2 separate regions of the Homo sapiens genome follow, and region 2 is linked to region 1. Evidence: fine-mapped expression QTL. A gene starts in region 1. The other region holds a variant in brackets. All regions are shown on one strand. Distances are between the middles of the regions.

The links. PIP is the estimated chance that this variant, and not a neighbour inherited with it, causes the effect.
Region 2: its variant is fine-mapped to the expression of PPFIBP2 in tibial nerve (GTEx, PIP 0.98). The same link has a PIP of 0.9 or more in cartilage and damaged cartilage.

The regions. Positions count from the first base shown.
Region 1 is chr11:7,512,727-7,515,639 of GRCh38, forward strand. PPFIBP2 (PPFIB scaffold protein 2) reads left to right here and starts at 1,273. Exons shown (of 24, transcript NM_003621.5): 1 at 1,273-1,395. LOC124902806 (leucine-rich repeat extensin-like protein 5) reads right to left here. Exons shown (of 4, transcript XM_047428005.1): 2 at 1,392-1,879; 3 at 1-1,314. The coding sequence ends at 484. RefSeq lists an enhancer at 49-168 and a silencer at 839-1,368.
Region 2 is chr11:7,584,603-7,587,515 of GRCh38, forward strand. The region is part of intron 3 of PPFIBP2 (PPFIB scaffold protein 2); the gene reads left to right. The region is part of intron 2 of LOC105376535 (a long non-coding RNA gene); the gene reads right to left. Among named protein-coding and RNA genes, the nearest start is that of PPFIBP2, 72 kb to the left of the region's middle. The variant A/G (reference allele first, on the strand shown) is at 1,349.

The DNA.
Region 1 (2,913 bases):
TGCGGGCCCCAGCCTTCCCCTGCTGGCTGTGCTTTGGTCTGCTGCTGGCCAGGTTCCCGCAGTGACCACACGTCTCATATTTGCCAGGGTGGGTTAGGTTCTGTTCACATGTAAAATTCTCCTGGGCCTACTGGTCATTTCAGACCGCGAGGGTAAATTTGGTTTGAAAAAGTTGTGTCCTGTGGAGTTTGTCGACACTCCAGCCTGTAGAGAACTAAAGGCTAGGGCTGTGGTGACTCCTGCCAGAGCTGGGGACTATGCCGAGTCCCTGGTGTCGCTGCCATCTGAGGCCTACAGGGATTTTAAACAGCTTAACAGCAGCCAGTCCTTGGAGGCCTGGGCAGGGCCACAACATAGCAGTACAACCAAAACGGGTTCAGGCCACACGCTGGAGGTAGGGGCTGGACCAGATCTCCAGCTTCAGTCCTCCCCAGTTCGAGAACCCATTCCTGTGGTCAGACATTGCCAACGCTTTTCTTGGACCTAAGGTCCCAGACCTTGGCGCTGGGCACAGGGAAATGCTTCCTGACCTCGGCTCTTCATAAGACAGAACTTTTGTTTGGTGCCAACCACTAGAGGGACCTCCACCCCAGGTTGCGAGTGCAGCGCGGCGGGACCTGGGATGATTCGGGGGCTTTCCGACCTGCTTAGGGAGGGCGGCTCAGAGACAACCTCAATTTTGCCTGGATTGCACGCGGGCCGAGGAAGTCGGGATGCTCCGAAGGGTTTCTGCTCTGGGAGTGCCTCTAATGTGGGTTTTCTATGCTTTCTCTCTTCGCAATTCTCGACACCGTTTCCTTCTTCCTCGCTTTCATTCCCTGTGACCGGAGAACGGCGCTGAAGGACTGGAGAAGCCCAGGAGACTGGGAGCCGGAGCGCCGGGTACCCACCCGGGCCTCCCCGCAACCGGAGCTGTGCGGAGGAGGAGGCGCGGCGAACGGGGCGGGGCTCCCGGAAGGGGGCGCGGTCCGCCGAGAGAGGCGGGGCTGGGGCCCGGACGCGCGGCCCAGGGGGTGGGGACGAGGCAGGTTCGAAGGGGCGGGGCTGACCAGGCCGGTCCCCCGGGAACAGGAACCCTGGTGGACGGGTCCCAGCAGGCTTCTTCGGTGCCCGAGAGGGAGCGGGTGCCCAAGGGGGTGGTCCCTGTGGCAGGTCCCGGGGTGGGGGCGCGGCGCTCCGGGAAGAGCCTTCCGCAGGTCCCCGCCCCGTCACGTGGGCGCCGGCCCCGGCCGCTGCGGTCGGTCCGCTGGTTGGTCGGGCGCTTGGTCCGGCAGTTGGTCGGTGGGCCAGTGGCCCGTCGCTCGCTTCTGGGCTCTCATGTTTGAAGGTGGGAGGGACACGGGAGCGGCCCGCACACCTGAGCCGCCCGGAGAGGAGCCTCGGCCCCGTACCCAGGTCAGTGGGCTCTCCCCACACCCCGGGCTTGCCGCGCGGTCGGGGTTGGGATCCCCGTCGGGAGCATTACCTAGGGAGTGGAGCGCCCCCAGAGCTACGAACCACGGGGACGTGTGGGTCAGTGTCTCTGTGAGCCCCGGAGCGTGTCCCAGGCTCGAGGACGGGGACCCTTCTCCAACTCCACTGGCCAGAAGCCTGGGAGGAGGGCAGAACTCCTGTGGGTTGGCTGCGAATCTCCACCCAACCCTGCCTGGGATCCGCGGACAGTCCGCACTCCTGCAGGTGCCAGCGTGGCCCTGGAGATGCGCAGGGAGGTGGGGTCCCTGAGTTCTGTGCGGCGCGTCCCAGCCCTGCTCAGCCCGGGGAGCAGCGGCGTGGACTAGGGAGCCTAAGGAGGTTGCGGAAGCTTTAGGTCTGTCAGCCCAGGCAATTCTCTGGTGGACACAGCGTGTGTCTAGATGCAGGGCCTCGGCTAAAGCCAGTTCTGTAGTGTAAGTGCAAAAATACAGCACACTTTTTAAAATCTAAAGCCGCCGCGTCCCAGTAGACTGCAGGATGGGGACGGTCCTATTTAAAAGTGGGCTCCCTCCTCACCTCATCACATCAGATTCCAGACCCGCAGTTTTTCCTCGGATGAAAATAAGATTATGTAACAAGAGAACAGAACTTCCAGCGTTTGGATAGGATTAAGACAGGCATTCTTGCCAGTGTTTAATCTTCTTAAAAAACGAATCTAATTATATTTTTACTTTTAGAGCAGCCAGATATTTGGTATAGATCCGTGTCCCTTTTCTATATTTTGGTCTACTTCCTGTCTTTCTCTTCGTCTCTCTCCTTTCTCAACCCCTCCTTAATTGATTGTAATACAAATCTGAAGTGTTTTCAAATTTGTAGTGTATTATGTGAAGTTAAATGGTCAACTACAGAAAAGTAGTTGGTTTTCGACATAATTCATCTTCAGCATATTCAGTCTTTCATTATTATAGGTGTATGGAAAGCTGTAAGTGTTATCTAATTTAGAAATTATTTCTCTTTGGCTTAAGAGAGGCAACCCATTTGTACTTTGCTTAAATTCATAGCTAAATAAATTTGAAGTGGGAGATGGGGATGATTGATGAGGTTTTCACTGATTGCATTTATCCATGTTTTATTTAACATATTTCAATTATTAGTAATACTATTTTAAGATTTGGTGATGTGACAGTTGTTAGCTTATTGCTACTGGAGAGATAAGCTGCTTACCATGATGCCTTCTTTACTGGGTAGCTAAGGGAGATGCGCTTTGACTTTAAAAGAGTAAGTGGAATGAGATCAATGACATGAAGGCGGTAGGAACAAAGTTATGGGAATTCCTGTCTTTCATCTGAGCAGGGAAATCTGGGATAATTTTAAGAAAGGGTGATGTGATGGACCTCAAAGGATCCCTCCTGGGGTTTTTGAGGCAGAGAAGGGTAGAGTGTGGCCTGGGCTGTGACAACTGTGTGGGCAGGCAGGCATGGACTCACCATGAGAAGTGGC
Region 2 (2,913 bases), 72 kb after region 1:
AATAAAAAAATCTAGGGGAAGTTTTCTTTTTTATAAGAACCTGCCTACACTCATACTACTGGGTTCCCTTGGTGTTGGGTAACCAGAGTCCTGTAACAGGAATTGACTGTAGCTTTTGTGATCCAATCATTTTTGTTTATTTATTTATTTTGGTCCCCTTACTTTTAAGGTTTATGTCTTCTAAGTTTCTAAAAGGGGTTGCATGTGAGTGGTGCTTCTGAGCTTAAGATATAGCCTTAGTAACTTTGATATCTCCCCTGATGCCCTGTGCCTGGCAGCTATGGTTCACTTGTAACTAGTTTTCTGGATTTTGATAAGATCCTCTTGACTAGGCAGCCTGGAAACACTACACATTTTCTTTTGTTTTCTTATTCAGCTAAAAATACATGTCATCTAAATGGCTAAATAAGGAAGAACCATTTTAAGGCTTATCCAGGACAAGGCTTACCCAACGTGCTGTGTTCAAAATCTCAGCGTATTTACAGGCAAAGAGCCATCATATAATTTAACATGCTCTGACCAGTTGGGACAGTGTATGTACTGTGGCCAAGATCCTGAAGGCACTGGAATTTATAGCTTATTAGAAGCACTGAAGGAAATGTAACTCTTTACCTGGCCAAGATGACAACTATTGATATCAAAAAAAGGAAGGCAGATGCATTTTGAGGATCCCAAGGCAAGAGCTCTGAGAAGCAACTGTTGGCTTCAAAAACCAACATGATGCTAGAGCTGTCACACTGGGGAGCCGACTGTTTTAGGTTTTCCCACACTCCTTACTTGTATACCAATGACACCCCTGTTGTGATCTAGCCCTTGCCCCATTTGACTACTCTGGAACCAACTCCTTCCCCTAGTTCAATGAAGTACAGTGCCAGCAGGAAGTCTCCTGGGTCATGCCAGTTGGGGAGTGCTACAGAACTGCCCTCATCCAGCATCCCTGAGGTGTACCAGAGCACATGTGAAGAGTGTGTTCTCCTTGCAAATGGCCAGCCAGGCCATAAAGCAGTCATGCTGCCCACCACAAATCTGCAGGACCCCAGCCATGGCATCAAGCACTCACCCTGTCTAGAGCTCCAAGGAGAGACTAACATGGCTATCCCTTGGCCAAGCTACAGTGGAAGGGCTAGGCCAGGAGAGAGCATTGTCATAGATCTGAACAGCCACTGCAGTCAGAGGGTGATGTCTTTGAGGAGGCCGCTGGGGGTTAACTTGGCTGAAAAGTTCATGTTTAACCCAAATTTGAACTAACCTCTAGATTGGAACAGAAATAAAAACCCAAGTGTTTATGATTGGTTATTACTAGCTATAAAAATTCCCAGTGTACTCATTATAAACATGTATGTAGCAC[A/G]TAATACTTAGAGTACACAATAAAACACTTGTACGAAAGAAAAATATGTGGCCATGAATGTATGACTCAAAAATGTGAGCACTTGTTCAGGGATAGTGGAGAAGTGAACTCATCTTTGGCAATGTGGCCCAAAGACATGATCCCAGGGCTATTAGCTAATGGTGGGTTCTGCGTTGTCACTGTCACAGAGGCTTTCTTTTTGTTTTGTTTTTTCATTTCAAGCCTGAAAGTATTTTGGTTATTGTTCCCTTGGGTTGTTTGTACAGATCTTCATAGATATTTCTTAGGCATCCTGATCAGAAATATTGCCCCTGTTGTTCTCTTACACAAAAAGAGTGAATTAATTAAAACTTTTTGTAGAAGGCATTAAATGATGCCTTCTAACTCATGCTTCTAACTGAATGTTGGTCTTTTAGATTAAACAAAGCTAAATCATTTATAAGTTAGCTAAATTCATTTGTTAAATTATAATTTAAAAATCATTTCCATATTCCTATGATTATTCAAAAACTGTTTATATCACACAGGAATTTTTAGAGCACCCTACTATAAAGAGCACTCTGTAGTTTTAGTGCCACACGTTTTCAGGTATGCTGACCTAACTTGACCCTTTCTGTTGCTCCGTGAAGCATGATTTTTTCTATTGAAAGGATGGAAAGCCTGAGATGAGGTAACCTACTTGAGATTACACATGGTTAGGTGCAGCCCCAGCCTCCTAATTATTCTTGGTTTGTCCTCTTTCTGCAGAGAAGGTGGTCCCTTGGGGAGGAGGATGCAATAGGAATTCTGTAAATGAATATGGAAGCACCACAAGAAAGTCCCCAGGGATCCCCTGACTTGAAGTTCAGCTGGGCCAAATGAGGGGAACAGGGAACCCAGAGCTCTCAGCCTCCCAGCGCCCAGACCTGGCATTTGTACAGCTGTGTCTGACATGTAATTCTTTCGACATAACTTCTTAAACAGTTGTTAGATCTATTTCTGTTATTTACCCTTCATTTATTCATTTTCTGATTCATTTTCTGATAATATCTTTTAGACTTTAGCTCCTGTTTATTTCTTGTTTTGTTTGAACTTACTTTTTCATATCACACATCCTGCTCCCCACCTCCACCAACCCCGGTTGATGCCCATGGGCCTGTTGCATCTTGTATTCATTCCCTGTCTTAACCTTTTTGCTCTACATGGGAAATAAGAATGGAAGCAAACAGGTGGTGGATAGAAAGCCATCTATTCCACACACAAAGGACACTGAGTGCCCTTTTTATCCTAGTACATCCCACACAGACACTCCCTGTGCCACAAAGTAGATCTCAATTAGCCCCTGATGATAATCCTGGTTTGAACTATAGTTGGCTTAGGACTGACAGCCCTGTCTTAAAAATTGCCACTTTAAGCAAATCAAGCAATAGTGGCAGAATTCCTTTGCAATTCAGAACTATATCCAAATAGCAGGAATTCTTTCCTACAAGTCTGTTTCCAAAGGAGTAAATTTTAGTCAGTTGATCACCTTTTGAGACAAATGTATTAACCAGAACTTTTGGTTGCAAATAACAGAAACTCAGTTT